2 separate regions of the Homo sapiens genome follow, and region 1 is linked to region 2. A link means that fine-mapping ties the variant in region 2 to the expression of a gene that starts in the linked region. Tissue or cell type: whole blood. Region 2 holds a variant in brackets; the other region holds the start of a gene. All regions are shown on one strand. Distances are between the middles of the regions.

Evidence for each region. PIP is the estimated chance that this variant, and not a neighbour inherited with it, causes the effect.
Region 1: it holds the start of VCAN, and the variant in region 2 is fine-mapped to the expression of VCAN in whole blood (INTERVAL, PIP above 0.99).

Annotation. Positions count from the first base shown.
Region 1 is chr5:83,468,435-83,476,434 of GRCh38, reverse strand. VCAN (versican) reads right to left here and starts at 4,691. Exons shown (of 15, transcript NM_004385.5): 1 at 4,412-4,691. RefSeq lists enhancers at 1-315, 316-838, 3,390-4,262 and silencers at 1,618-1,837, 1,868-1,957.
Region 2 is chr5:83,318,170-83,326,444 of GRCh38, reverse strand. All of the region lies in intron 7 of XRCC4 (X-ray repair cross complementing 4), which reads right to left. Among named protein-coding and RNA genes, the nearest start is that of VCAN, 150 kb to the left of the region's middle. The variant TG/G (reference allele first, on the strand shown) is at 5,094.

The sequences.
Region 1 (8,000 bases), 150 kb before region 2:
GTTTCTCTACGTGGGTGGTGAAAAAATACCTTACTACAGTCATTAATTCTTTCTTTCAAAAGAACCATGTGTCTTGAGAAGTTCTGCTCCATCACAGGGCAATATCCCATTTTAAATACAGTGTTTACCGATGTTTGTCCATGAATGACGTCAACAAAAATGTTTAAATCTCACCAGGAAAGGAGGGCTTAGTTGCCAGACTTTGGGAGACAGAGTTAGTTGATCTTTGCGCTCTCAAAGGCTCTGTTACTCAATTAAGTGACCAATCATTAACTCCAAAGTATTTAAGCCTAATAATACAACAAAAGAGAGAACAATGGGTAGTATCTTTAACATTAATCATGGTCACCTTTGGTTTAGCTGTTTAGGTCCTTTCCTAGCAGAATTTACAAGTGTATAGATACAGGTATTCTGGAATATCAAAGGCATCTCCCTCCAGTTTGCAAACACAGGGAAAAAGAAGAAACTTACATCTGTAAACCTATGTAAATCTAGGGGGATTCCTTTCAAACCTCGTTTTTTTGAAAGCAGGAAATACAATTTAAAACCAACTCTGTTTTTATCTACCAAAAGAATCAAAACTTTGAATTCTGACATAAATCCTAAATGATTGTCTTGAATCTCATCCCGCTTCCTACCTAATCTTCTCACAAGAAGATTAAGGACTGTGGACTTGGTGCTGGAGGAAGTAATTGCTCAATCACATTGGAATCCATTGGAACCCTTTACAATATTACTGCGGGCAGACAATACAATTCTAACATATTTCTTTCTTTACTCAGAGCTCAGAACAAGAAGTCAGACTCTTGGAGACCTTCTCCCTGATGTACTGCTCTTAACATTTCCAAGTTACAAACTGGGAACCGCTTCTATCTCAGAACACTAATTGTTGCTTCCATTGGTACCTTCCTATTTTTATATTACACTCACAACATCCTATTTTAGGACTTTATGTGAATATTTTCAGGATGGGTTTGGCGAAATTGTCAAGAAGTGCTTAAAACAATTAGGTCACAGCTTTCAGCAGACAAAAAGAAAAAGACGTGGCTGTTAGCTACAGAATCTGAGGTGATGGAAAAGATCTTTAAAATCCAGTTCTTCCAATATGCAGCAAAATGGGAGGACTTAAAATGCAGCTCTAAGAAGCACCGTCTCGTCTGCACCAAGCTTCTCCAGGTTTCCAGCTCAGTCACTCCCTAAATAGGTGCTGAGCTTCCAGTCCCCGCCAGGTCCCCGCTAAGGTTCCTCATTGAGGCACAGGAACCTCAGTTACACTCGCAGCCCTTCCATGTTTGCCCCCATGAAATTCTATTAGTCTTGTCGAATGGCAGTATTTGCCATTCCAGGCGAACTCTTTATGACAGTCTGGAACGAAATTAATCTGTTAATTGACTAAGAATGGGCTTTAGAGTGACCTGAATGTATTTAAAAAGTCAACAAATGGAATACGGTATAAAGTCTCATTTTTCTGACAAAAAGTTTGCTTGGAGTAAATTTTAACCTCTCCCCTGCCTCAAAACAAAAGCACGATGCCCCTCCTACCACTCCCAAGAAGCAAGCAAAAATAAAATAAAATAAAATAAAACTTAAATAGCCTTTTAATAAGAGTGTTCAGCGCTGTCTGGATGGAACTCGGGTCAGCTCCAGAAGCAGCCGGCCCCGAATCCTGGGGGCGAGGCCACTCGGCTCTCTCGGTTAAGCTGGGCCCTGCCTTCCCCGCCCCGCCCCCATTGGCCTCGGTGGGTGGGGGCCTCGGCTGCGCCGGCCGCCTGTGCGGCTGTACTGCAGTCTCTGAGCCCAGGAAGTCACACCCGTCTCGGCTGGGAGCCGAAGCGCCAACCCACGTGGCGGCTGGCTAACCCAGCCGCTGCGGGGAGCGCCCGTTGCGGGTCCTCCCTTGGCGCGAGGTGAGCGAGTGGGGGCGGGCCCCAGACCCAGCCCCTTTGGGCGGGGCTGGACCACCTCCGCTTGTCTAGTTCTTTCCCACCCTTCCATCCCGGCACGCCTCTGCAGTCACATTTGTTGCCGCTGGGAAAGGGAAAAGAGTATCCTAAAACGAGTCTCGAAATTCAGACCCAAACCCCGAAACGAACCCTTCCGGTCCGTTCCTGGCTGTTTGAATGCCATCTGCCCCATCTCCGTTCCTTTCTCCTTTTCCTCCCCTCCACGGTCCTCTTTCCTTCCACTTCCCTTCCTTCCCTTTCTTTTTTCCTCCCACTGCCCGCCTTCTCTCCACTTTCCCGTCCGACGCCCGCCCTGAAGTTGAGGAAGTTTAAGTTTTGGATTAGGAGCCCTTCTTTTGCAATATCCTGGGGCGGGGCCCTAGCGTTGGGTTCAAGTGGTCATGGGTTTTGAGAGCACGGTATGTGTATTATCTTTCTTAAAGACGCCCAGGGTGGCGCGTCTAGACCTCCGAAACCTGGCTCCACCCTGGCCATGTGCGTTCGTCCACTAAGCGGCGAACTGGACCCAGGGCGCCGCGTGCGTTCCAGCCGACTCGCGAGAAGGCATCTCTGCACTTTGCACAGACCAAGACCTTTTTTCAGGGTCCTCCAAACTCCTAGATGTACGCCGCAGATTGTGGAGTGCAAAATGAATGACTTAAGGGAAAACTAGGGCCTTCCATCCTTGAACACAAGGTTGTGAAAGATGCTCGCTTGGTCTGGGGGGCTTGTTTTTCTCCGCCTGTGCGGGACTTCTCCATCAGGGGGCGCCCACACCCGCCGCAAAACTCCCAATTCCTAGACATCTAGGTTCTGCAAGTCTTGTGAGCTGAACTGGGGGCAGATCCGAAGGAGCGCACCGCCTCCCTCGCTCCTCCCTCCCTGCTGCCTTGGAGCACGGGAAAGGCAGGGATTTCACACTAGCCATTCATTTGTCAGCTGTGGGGGAGGGGACGCAGAAGCTAGAGAGAGAGAACAGAGGCTGGGAGAGGGGAAGGGAGGCAGAGAAGATGGAGACAGAGGGAGACACAAAGATGAGGAACGCGACCCAGAGAGACTCTGCCGCGGGTGTGCGCGCGGCAGGACAACTCTCCAGGCGCCGTGTAGATTTCTCCCCCTTCCCGCAGCATCTCCCAGGGACATGCAGGACTTGCCGAGACGCAGTTGGATTGGAGAGCAAATAGTTTAGGCTATGACACTATTTTTCTACCCCGCTCTCCTCTGCCTAACACCCAGACCGCTCCACGCCCAGTGACACAGACCGCGGGCCAGAACAACCCGGATGCCCTAGGTCTGCACGCACCAGGGATGTCGCCCTACAGCGCCCACGCCTCTGCAGGACGGTGGGGCGCTCCAGCCGAGGACGTCCCCCGGGGCTCCCGGCACACGCGCGCGCCGCTGCCGCTAGACCTGCCAGTAAAGTTGCTCAACTAGAGCGGAGAACTAGGAGAGGGTGGGGAATATGTAAGGAAACGGAGGACTCCTGTAGTCTGGGCGAGAGGACTGACCCAGAGGCCCCTGATTCGGGTCCCCGAGCCACCTTTGTCTGCAGTGCGCTCTGGGTGCCGGTTTGCTTGTTGAGATGGGAGCGACAGACCCTATTTCACTCTTCAGGGTGAGAAAAATTGTTGCACATCCCTGCCGATTCAGAACAGGCTTTTCCCGCCCAGGGGCCTCCCAGACCTCCGCGGGGCTCCAACAACCCCACCCCCCATCCTCTGCTCCTTCCCTGCTGGCCCCTTCGCACCGCGTGCAGGACAAAAGAACCCAGGGGCGCCGGGAGAGAACCGTGACAGTCCCCAAGTCGTCAAAGAGACACGGCGGGGATCCTGCACCTCCCCCGGCCGGACCTCCTCCCAGACTGCCTGCGGTCTGAAGGGGTCAGGTCCGCGCAAGGTCCCAGGCTGCTTGGGCGCCGGGTCGCACTGTCAGGAGCTGCCCGGGAGTGGCTTTCCAGGAACACCAGGCACTGACCACACACCAGGGGCTGGGAAACCAGGTGGCCTGCACCAAGGCGGCTTCGGGGACTTGTCTGTGGCAAGTCTTGGTAGTCCCCATTCAAACTTTTGCCTCGAGCGTGTTAAGAACAACAACAACAAAAAAATCAAAGTGCCAAAGGTCCCTCTCTTCTCTCCAGCTCAAGAACCCACCACTTTTCTATGATTTCTTTACAATTTATTCCCTCCCTTCCCCCAATTCCGTTAGTCATTTTACCCCCCACCCCACCCTGGGTTTCTTTTGTCTGAATCTTTTTCAACACCAAGGTCCCTCTGTATGCCTCTCCCCAAAAGCCCTTATGAAAGTTACCTGCATTTTTTAAGTGCCTACATTTTCTTAACTTCGCCTTACAGCTCTTTGCCTTAATTAAAGCCTTCTACCAATTGCTTCTTTTTTCTAAGCTCGCGGGTTTTTTTCTATAAGTTTTTTGTTTTTGTTTTTTAAGGGGGGAACAAAAGAAACGTGATTACCTTGGAAGGCGGCTTATTGCAGTTTGGGGGGAAAATTCACTGCAGCGCTGCGCGACTGGGTTCGGCGTTGCCCAGGCGGGTCACATAGGAAGCGTGGTGGCCCGGGGAAGGATGCGGAGGGTGCGGGACGGTGCTGGAAGATGCGGGAGGATGCGGGGCTGGCCGAAGATCTTGGTCCCAGCTCCTGTCCACAACACCTAATGTTCTCGGCTGTTGCGTCCGCACGCCTGGAGTTCTTCCCCAGAAAGGCTCGGGGCAGCTCGCCTGCAAGTTCAAATGCGGGTTGTGACACCCATCATCATTATATCACTGTACCGTCAGAGCCGAGGAGGAGACTCAGCGAGAAGAAGGAGGAGGGAGAGGAGGAGGGTTCATTCACAGGCTCCAAAAGCGCTCCGCAGCTTCAGCCACTCCTAAGAGTCCAGGCTTGGAAAGCAGGCGGAGGGGCGGAAAGGCAGCTCCCCGCGCCTGCGGTAGGGACCGCCTGCCTCCCTCCCCAGGCACTCCCACCTCTTGGCGTTTCTTCCTGACAAGAAGTACCAATCGGCTTGGGGACAGCAGCGCTCCCCATTCAGGGACTCACTCAGTAACATCGCTCTGCTCGCGGAAACCACTGCCCTCCCACTCCTTCCCCACCCCCATTTCCCCGCCCCCCGTGCAGCTAGTTCTGGGTTAGGGGAAAGGAGCCCCCAGGCTCTTAGGGGGCAGGCCAGCAATAGACAATTGAGTACGATCACTTCTTCTCGGGAGCACACAAAACTGTAAAATCAGCAAAGAACTTGGTTACAGCGTGTTTACGCGCCCACAGAGCTTGCCTGTCCCATCAAAGGGAAGTGTCAGGCTCAAGGCTCCTGCCAACCTGAAAGAGACACTGAGAAAACGAGATCCTTCGGGGACCTAGAGGGAAAGTGTAAGAATTCCCCACTGCACTCCCAGGGAACTGCCCAATGGGGAGCCCGGCTTCAAAAGACCCTGGTAATAAAAGGCTGGACAGGAAATTCCCCCAGGCAAATCCCTTGTCGGATTCAAAGAGAATACTTTTCCTCTGCCACAAATCTCTCCCCACATAAGTCTAGATTCTGCTTTCTTCGTTCTTCCTTTCCTTCAGTCTTTCCAAGTATCTCTGAGTAGAATATTTGATAATTTTCCTGAGTAACAGGGACTTCTTGGAAGTATCAATCACCTTTCATGCTTTCCGGAAATAAGACCATAATCTTTCATGCGTATATGCGATTTTTTTTCTTCAGTCAGGCCCACCCCACTGTGTAAACAGCATCAACACATGGAAGAGTCCCCTGCATTGTGTTACAAAAGATTTCCAATAGGACCTTACAGAGAAAAGGGTCAAACAGTTGACACAAAGGATTTCTGTCCCCTTAGAAAAGAGGGACTTTGGATTTTCCTTTTCTTTGAAGTCAAGTATGAGTTTATACAATAGGAACAAAATAAATCCAAGGTGCACATCAGTATAACACTAGGGATACTAGAATGGATGGCAAACTTTTCCTTCTACACAAATATGAAAGTATCCTCACAACTCTTCTCTCTGAAGCCTCTACTTAGAAAATTATATTAAACATAGGACCTCAAAACAGTAGTGATTAAAGATGAAAGCCAATTTTTCCTCTCAACTTCTTTGATTAGTTTGGTTTAAACTTATGCTTTAAAACTTTTAGTAACTTAGACTCCTGTACATGCGCATTTATAAGATTTCTTTTATATTTTGTAATTTGTAGGCATTCAGCATGGTCATTGATTTTAAGTGATAAACAGGTAGAAGACTTGTCAGGATAATTTCAGTTCTCACCATGTGCATCTTTCATTTCTTTTGTTATTTATCAGCCCTCTGCAGTAATATAACTGTCAGTTACATCATTTGGAAATCAATGTGTTTTTGCAGTGAATTATTTATTCTTAGTAAATTTATTGTACTACCATTCCAAACACTGAAATTTGATTTCATCAGATGTTTAGAATGATAGTCACAGAGCAGAATCAGACTTCAACCTTCATGTATAACATGTAAACAAACTAAGGTGCAGAAAGTTACTGTCCCAAAGTCACACAATTAATAGTCCAGTGGTCTTTTCAGTGCTAATCATAGCAACTTTAGATTCAAGATTGCTTGATTCAGGAATGGAGAGAAATAAAATAAAATGAATGTTCATTGAAATATATACTCCAGACATTAAGATAGACCTTTCTGTGAAACACTTCAAGATGTGGATTTGTATTCTCATTCTTAAATTTGAGTAAATCTAGTTGAGTTTCAAAGAGTTCAAGTAACCTGCCCAAGGCCATTTTGTAAGTGACAGATCTGCCAGTCTGAAAAGCTTATTATCTTTTACCCTTTTGTCCCTTTATGATACAGTTAAGTAAAACCTTTCAACAAAGGAGAACTAGATCAGAAACAAGCAACTAATAGCAGATTAATGCCCATTTTTAGGGAAATGTTAATAGTTAACATTCACTATAAATAATGCCATCTGTATATAATGGAACATGATTGAAAGTGATGGGTTAGATACTTTTTACATTCTGAGATGTTTTCATTTATGTTGCCAAATTTGATTCTCTAATCCTCCAAAATTTTTAGTTTCTTTTAATGCCAATAGACTTCACAACACTTGACCAAATACTTCTACAGGACAAAGGCACTTTCTCAGGGCTGACTTAAGGAATTAGAATATGCACAATGTTGAAAAGCTTTAAACTGCCTGTCTTTTCTCTTCTTTGACTTGTAACATTATTATTCAGAAAATTAAATACTTCTTCAGGCTATCAGATAACTAAAATGAAATTATACCCCATGGATATCTTCTTTCTATCTCTAGGGCAGACTTTCCCCTCTAGCTGTCTAAAATGGAGAATGGATAAAAAAGAAAAAGGAAAACATACCAGCTATATTTAGAATAGAGTCTACAGTTGTATTATTATTTCTATGTAACTGTTTTTAATGACTTTCCTTCATCAAGAGAAAGAAAATGAGAGAGCATTTATTTCTGATTCTCCAATGCCTGACAAAACTATCAGAAGTTTTTGAATGGGAAAATATATATTTTTCAGGTTTTATAACTAAAATTGTATTTATTTGTCCATTACACTCAAGTATGAATCAAACAGTAATTAAAATATTATTCTGTGAGTCCCCCTTTAAATCACATCCTTGTACTGGGGATATTCTTTGTGAAAACTCCAAGATCCCAGGTATAAATAAAGCAAGATCTTCATTCACAATGCTTGTGTCTAAAAGAAACCATAAGCCAGAAGCTATGTGCCTTGCTTCCTTGCTTTGATCTTGTCTTTGGGAATTTGGCTGAGCTCAGGGGCAGCAAGCCAATGACTTGGAGAGGAAAGGTGTAGATGGCAGATGTGTCTCCAGGGAATTTTATTATCTTCATCTAAACCTCCTTCTGAGGTTCTTTAGGATTACATTTCAGACTTCTCCTTTTTTATTGATCAGGTGAAGTGTTCTTAGACATGGCATCATCTATTGCTGCTCTAGGGATGACAAGATTCCAGTCCCATTCAAATTCAGAAAGAGCTTAGTTTCAACTCCTTGATCTGACTGGTCCTAGGCACAACTAAG
Region 2 (8,275 bases):
TCTCAATAAACTAGGTATTGAAAAACTCTTAAGTAAACTAGGCACTTAAATGTAAAACCCAAAAACTATAAAAATCCTAGAAGAAAATGTAGGCAATACAATTCAGGACATAGCAACAGACAAAGATTTCATGACAAAGACTCCAAAAGCAATTGCAACAAAAGCAAAAATTGACAAACGGGGTCTACTTAAACTAAAGAGCTTTTGCACAGCAAAAGAAACTATCGTTGGAGTTAGCAGAAAACCTACAGAATGGGTGAAAATTTTTGCTATCTATCCATTTGACAAAGGTCTAATATCCAGAGTCTACAAGGAACTTAAACACATTTACAGGGAAGAAACAAACAAGCCCATTAAAAACTGGGCAAAGGACATGAGCAGATACTTCTCAAAAGAAGACATAAGTGCAGCCAACTAACATATGAGATACCATCTCATGCTAGTCAGAATGGCTATTAAAAAGTCAAAAAACAACAGATGCTGGTGAGGATGCAAAGAAAAAGGAATGCTTTTACACTGTTAGTGGGAGTGTAAATTCGCTCAACCACTGTGGAAAACAGTGTGGTGACTCCTTAAAGACCTAGAACCGGAAATACCATCGGACCCAGCAATCCCATTACTGTATATATATCTAAAGAAATAGAATAATTCTATTATAAAGATACATGCATGCATATGTTCATTGCAGCACTATTCACAATAGCAAAGACATGGAATCAACCTAAATGCTCATCAATGATAGACTGGAAAAAGAAAATATGTACATATACACCATGGAATACTATGCAGTCGCAAAAAAGAATGAGATCATGTCCTTTGCAGGTGCATGGACAGAGTTGGAAGCCATTATCCTCAGCAAACTAATGCAGGAACAGAAAACCAAACATAACATGTTATCACTTATAAGTGAGAGCTGAATGATGAGAACGCATGGACACAATGGGAGAACAACACACACAATGGGGCCTGTTGAGGGGTGTTGGGGGAGGGAGAGCATCAGGAAGAATAACTAATGGATGCTGGGCTTAATACCTGGGTGATGGGATGATCTGTGCAGCAAACCACCATGGCACACATTTACCTATGTATCAAACCTGCATGTCCTGCACATGTACCCCTGAACTTAAAATAAAACTTATAGGAAAAAAGAAAAAAATTAAGGACAGATTCCATTATGAATAATAACAAAATAAAATGAAATTTGGAAGAAAATTGCCTATAAGTAGTAAGAGAATCTGGCTGAAAGCAGATAAGGTCATGGACTCTAAAAAACAGCATGCTCAAATATGTGATAGCTTTTATTAGGAGGCAGAAACATTTCCAGCCTCATTGCAAAAGGGAAATGTTGACTAGCAAAAGCTCATACTAGGGAATAAAATAGGAGACACCTACCTGCCAAAGAAGATGGGATTGTGCTACATTGTTCTAGGAAGGAACTTTAAAAAAATCACTTGAAGGGTTCCCAAAGTAGCCAAAGGTGGGGAGGCCGTCCATTCTACATGATCACCTGAGACTGAGGTAAATCTTCTGAGTTCCCAGTAAGTCTATTTTCAAATTACTTTTAGTTTGCTTTTATAAAGTGGCTTTGTTCTTGAATTTGCATGGTGATTCTATGCATATTATCTTGAGTCAATCAAAATCTTTACTCTCCCTAAGGTACTACCTAATGTCAAATACTTCACAATCTTAGCAGAGTCTTAGGGCTAATCATTAGAATGTATTGGGAGGAAACAAAGGCTGCCATAGGAATACCCCACTGGCATGAACATGTATGGAATTCAAGTATGTGTCTGTCTTCCTAGAATACTAAAAACTATATTTTCCTTCTTTTAGCTACACTAAAAAGCTACAGAAATGGCAAAAGCCAATGGCATCTTATGTACTTAAAAAAAGAAATCCCAAAATATTGATCAACACTTTCTACTTTTCCTCTTACATCTATTGACAAGGATAAGGATATTGACAAAGATATTTACATGAATAAAATATTTTTAATGTTTGATCAATAGAAGAGTTATCTTAGACCACTGATAAAAACAAACAGGAATTCCACAATTCCAGTTAATGTTGTGGAGTTAAAAACCCCATGACTGTGCCTGAAAGGTAGATGGATCTAATGCACATGTGTCTTTCATTTAGTGAGACATCAAGTTGTTTGTGTGTACAGTACATTCATGTTCTTTATAGTATGCTGAGATTAACAATAATTTGAAAAATAAAAAAGTTAACATATTCACCTTATTAATATTTTCTGCGGCTTAATAGGAACAGGCAAGGCTACCAAGAAAATAATTTAATCTGAGATTTTCTATATTTATACACAAGTATTTCCATGGGGGTAAGAATCAAAAAGCTCTAACAAAAATTGTCAAAAGAACTGGAGATTTTCTTGATGTATTCTGCTACATCATTCCAAAATATCTGATGAAAACTGTGGCAAATTATGCAACTCTAAAAAACTGAAGTGAAACTGATATAAACTTATCCTATCATCTCTGGATAATCAAACTGTCCTTCATATTATAATTTATCATTTCCTTTGGTTTCATTGCTAAATCACTGATACCTGATCTATACCACAGTAAATCTTCATTTGGCTTATAACATCTTTTCTTTACCATTCTCTCTTCCTCAAATAGTGAAATTAACCTTGAAAACATATTTCAAAACTCACCCAAGTTCTGTCTAGTCTGCAAAATTTCTAGTTCCAAACACAGTATCAGATATTTTTGTTCATACATCCTTACTACTTTTACTGTTCAACTCTCACAAGAGAACACAAGAAAAATGACCTCTATTTATTTTGCACTTGGCCAAAAACATCTAAGCAAAAATTTGTATTAATCAAAAAAAAAATGAAGAGAAGAGAAATATTTTTATTAAAACTGTTGCTTTATTTTTATTATAATTTGAGGAATTGGTAATTATTTTTATAACTAGAATAAATAATTTCTCTCCAACTGATTAAAGTATGGTACTGTTGATATGGTTTAATTAACATTTCTGTGTAACAACCTCTCTAAAATCCTCAGCAACAAGCAATGATAGAAAATCATTTGTAATGCTGTAATATTCATTTTCTTATTTGTAGTATATTTACTATTACATTTTCCAAGGATACTTTACAGCCATATACTTTTTTTTGATAAATATGAGTAATCAAAAATTTAAAATCAATGAAAATTATTTTAGGGCTAATTATTTCCTGATTTAAACTGTGCATTTCAAAATACCATTTTGCATTATAAAACTCACCATATTTTTTTGGTTTCTGCATTTTTGTACTCCCTTCCCTGCTTGGAAAACACTATTTTATTTCAAGCTTCAGTTCAGATCTTCTAAGTAGCTTTAAAGAACTAGATCCATCAGAGTCAATACTCCACCCATGCTCCCCATCCGCTCCCACATACTTCGAATAGGGCTCTTGCTGTACTATAACAATTATTTTTTGTGTTTGTCTCTTTCATTAAACTTTGAGTTCCTCAGTGCATTTATTTCCTATGACTGCTGTGACAAATTACCCAAACTTGGTTGTTTAAAACAACACACATTTATTCTCTTATAGTTCTGGAGTCCAGAAGTCTGAAATCAGTAACACCAGAATAAAATCAAGGTATCATCAGGGCTGCATTGCCTCCAAGGCCATTAGGTGAGAATCTGTTCCTTCCTCTTCCAGCTTTTTGTGGTTGTAGCATTCCTTGGCTGGGAGCCACATCTCTCCAATCTCTGCCTCCAATGTCACTTTGCCTTCTTCTCTGTCTGTGCCAAATCTCTCTATGCCTCCCTCTTATAAAGATCTATGTAATTGTATTTGGGCTTACTTTGGTAATCCAGGATAATCCTAGGATAATCAAAATCATTAACTTGATCACACCCACAAAGTCTTTGCCATATGATAACATTCGCATGTTCCACAAATTAGGACATGCGCATGCGGCGGTTGGGGGAGATGGAGGGAGTGGTTATTCAGCCTATCACACCCAGTGAGGGAAAGTTATCTTATTCATGTTGGTACCTTCAGTCCACAGCATATTGCCTGGCACAGAGTAGGTACTATATAATTGGGGGATAAAAACATAAATAATTTCATTGAGGTCTTTAATTGCATATAAAGTCATGGAAAATTGTGAGTTCATAGCATTTGATAGAGTTCAGCGCTGAGATACATTGAGGCTTAAACAGGCTAATTGTAATGTTTTTAATGGCATACATAGTAAATAAATTTGTTTTATAATTAGGTTCCTATTAAATGTCTAACAATATTCCGGAGTTATGCAGACATCAGATATGGAAAAAATTCTTCAGATAACACAATTTACAAGTAAGTAAATGTAAATTGTGAAAGCATAGAACATAAAATAAGAAACAGCTTAACAGTACAAGCTCATTACTTTTCCAATTAAAAACACAATTCAAATGTTTACAATTATCATCTTTAGAAGGTTTGTTTTATTTTAAATGATACATACTAGATAGTAAAATATTCCTTAATTCATATAAATCAACTGAATCTCTCAGACACTGAGTAATGCCTCCAGTGAATGCTTGGCTGGTTTCCTGGTCTTTGTGCCATTTTGGTGTGACTTAATCATGGATAATAAGGAACATTACCATAACACATTAAATTTTTTGCATTTTGATCATAGATAAAAAATTCTTCAGGGAATATCACATCTTTGCAATTATGATCTTATCTGTATTCCACAATTCCAGTTAATGTTGTGGAGTTAAAAACCCCATGACTGTGCCTGAAAGGTAGATGGATCTAATGCACATGTGTCTTTCATTTAGTGAGACATCAAGTTGTTTGTGTGTACAGTACATTCATGTTCTTCATAGTATGCTGAGATTAACAATAATTTGAAAAATAAAGTTAACATATTCACCTTATTAATATTTTCTGTGGCTTAATAGGAACAGGCAAGGCTACCAAGAAAATAATTTAATCTGAGATTTTCTATATTTATACACAAGTATTTCCATGAGGGTAAGAATCAAAAAGCTCTAACAAAAATTGTCAAAAGAACTGGAGATTTTCTTGATGTATTCTGCTACATCATTCCAAAATATCTGATGAAAATTGTGGCAAATTA[TG/G]CAACCCTAAAAAATTGAAGTGAAACTGATATAAACTTACTGCAATCATAAAGTTCAAAACTATTATTTAGTGAATACAGACACACTTTGCATACATTGCCAGTTTGGTTCCATGCCAAAACAATAAAGTCAAAATCTCAATAAAGTGAGTCACATAAATGTTTTGCTTTCCCTGTGCAGAAAAAGTTATGTTTACATGACACTGTAGCCTATTAAGTGTGCAACAGCATTATGTCTAAAGAAATGTACATAACTTGCTAATGCCTGTAATCCCAGCACTTTGGGAGGCCGAGGCGGGCAGATCACAGGGTCAGGAGTTCCAGACCAGCCTGGCCAATGTGGTGAAACCCCATCTCTACTAAAACTACAAAAATTAGCCAGGCATGTTGGCGGGCACCTTAGTTCCAGCTACTTGGGAGGCTGAGGCAGAAGAATTGCTTGAACATGGGAGGCAGAGGTTGCAGTGAGCTGAGATCATGCCACTGCATTACAGCCTGGGTGACAGAGCGAGACTCTGTCTCAAAAAAAAAAAAAAAAAAAAAAGAAGTACATAACTTAATTTCAAAATGTTTATTGCTAAAAAATGCTAATAATCATCTGGGCCTTTAGCAAGTTGTAACCTTTTTTGCTGGTGCAGGGTCTTGCCTCAATATTGATGGCTGCTGACTGATCAGGGTGGTAGTTGCCAAAGGTATTAAGTGGCTGTGCAATTTCTTAAAATAAGACAATGAAGTTCATGACACTGATTGACCCCTTCACAAAATATTTCTCTATAGCATGGGGATGCTATTTGACAGCATTTTTTCCTCAGTAGAACTTCTTTCAAAATTGGAGTCAATATTCTCAAACCCCACCTCTGCTTTATGAACTAAGTTTATGGATATTATAAATCCCTTTTTGTAATTTTAACAATGTTCATAGAATCTTCGCCAGGAGTGGTTTTTATTTCTTTTTTTTTTTATTTTTTTATTATTTTTTTATTTTTTATTTTTTATTATACTTTAAGTTTTAGGGTACATGTGCACATTGTGCAGGTTAGTTACATATGTATACATGTGCCATGCTGGTGCGCTGCACCCACTAACGTGTCATCTATCATTAGGTATATCTCCCAATGCTATCCCTCCCCCCTCCCCCGACCCCACAACAGTCCCCAGAGTGTGATATTCCCCTTCCTGTGTCCATGTGATCTCATTGTTCAATTCCCACCTATGAGTGAGAATATGCGGTGTTTGGTTTTTTGTTCTTGCGATAGTTTACTGAGAATGATGGTTTCCAATTTCATCCATGTCCCTACAAAGGACATGAACTCATCATTATTTATGGCTGCATAGTATTCCATGGTGTATATGTGCCACATTTTCTTAATCCAGACTATCATTGTTGGACATTTGGGTTGGTTCCAAGTCTTTGCTATTGTGAATAATGCCGCAATAAACATACGTGTGCATGTGTCTTTATAGCAGCATGATTTATAGTCATTTGGGTATATACCCAGTAATGGGATGGCTGGGTCAAATGGTATTTCTAGTTCTAGATCCCTGAGGAATCGCCACAATGACTTCCACAATGGTTGAACTAGTTTACAGTCCCACCAACAGTGTAAAAGTGTTCCTATTTCTCCACAACCTCTCCAGCACCTGTTGTTTCCTGACTTTTTAATGATTGCCATTCTAACTGGTGTGAGATGATATCTCATAGTGGTTTTGATTTGCATTTCTCTGATGGCCAGTGATGATGAGCATTTTTTCATGTGTTTTTTGGCTGCATAAATGTCTTCTTTTGAGAAGTGTCTGTTCATGTCCTTCGCCCACTTTTTGATGGGGTTGTTTGTTTTTTTCTTGTAAATTTGTTTGAGTTCATTGTAGATTCTGGATATTAGCCCTTTGTCAGATGAGTAGGTTGCGAAAATTTTCTCCCATGTTGTAGGTTGCCTGTTCACTCTGATGGTAGTTTCTTTTGCTGTGCAGAAGCTCTTTAGTTTAATTAGATCCCATTTGTCAATTTTGGCTTTTGTTGCCATTGCTTTTGGTGTTTTGGACATGAAGTCCTTGCCCACGCCTATGTCCTGAATGGTAATGCCTAGGTTTTCTTCTAGGGTTTTTATGGTTTTAGGTCTAACGTTTAAATCTTTAATCCATCTTGAATTGATTTTTGTATAAGGTGTAAGGAAGGGATCCAGTTTCAGCTTTCTACATATGGCTAGCCAGTTTTCCCAGCACCATTTATTAAATAGGGAATCCTTTCCCCATTGCCTGTTTTTCTCAGGTTTGTCAAAGATCAGATAGTTGTAGATATGCGGCATTATTTCTGAGGGTTCTGTTCTGTTCCATTGATCTATATCTCTGTTTTGGTACCAGTACCATGCTGTTTTGGTTACTGTAGCCTTGTAGTATAGTTTGAAGTCAGGTAGTGTGATGCCTCCAGCTTTGTTCTTTTGGCTTAGGATTGACTTGGCGATGCGGGCTCTTTTTTGGTTCCATATGAACTTTAAAGTAGTTTTTTCCAATTCTGTGAAGAAAGTCATTGGTAGCTTGATGGGGATGGCATTGAATCTGTAAATTACCTTGGGCAGTATGGCCATTTTCACGATATTGATTCTTCCTACCCATGAGCATGGAATGTTCTTCCATTTGTTTGTGTCCTCTTTTATTTCCTTGAGCAGTGGTTTGTAGTTCTCCTTGAAGAGGTCCTTCACATCCCTTGTAAGTTGGATTCCTAGGTATTTTATTCTCTTTGAAGCAATTGTGAATGGGAGTTTACTCATGATTTGGCTCTCTGTTTGTCTGTTGTTGGTGTATAAGAATGCTTGTGATTTTTGTACATTGATTTTGTATCCTGAGACTTTGCTGAAGTTGCTTATCAGCTTAAGGAGATTTTGGGCTGAGACGATGGGGTTTTCTAGATAAACAATCATGTCGTCTGCAAACAGGGACAATTTGACTTCCTCTTTTCCTAATTGAATACCCTTTATTTCCTTCTCCTGCCTTATTGCCCTGGCCAGAACTTCCAACACTATGTTGAATAGGAGTGGTGAGAGAGGGCATCCCTGTCTTGTGCCAGTTTTCAAAGGGAATGCTTCCAGTTTTTGCCCATCCAGTATGATATTGGCTGTGGGTTTGTCATAGATAGCTCTTATTATTTTGAAATACGTCCCATCAACACCTAATTCATTGAGAGT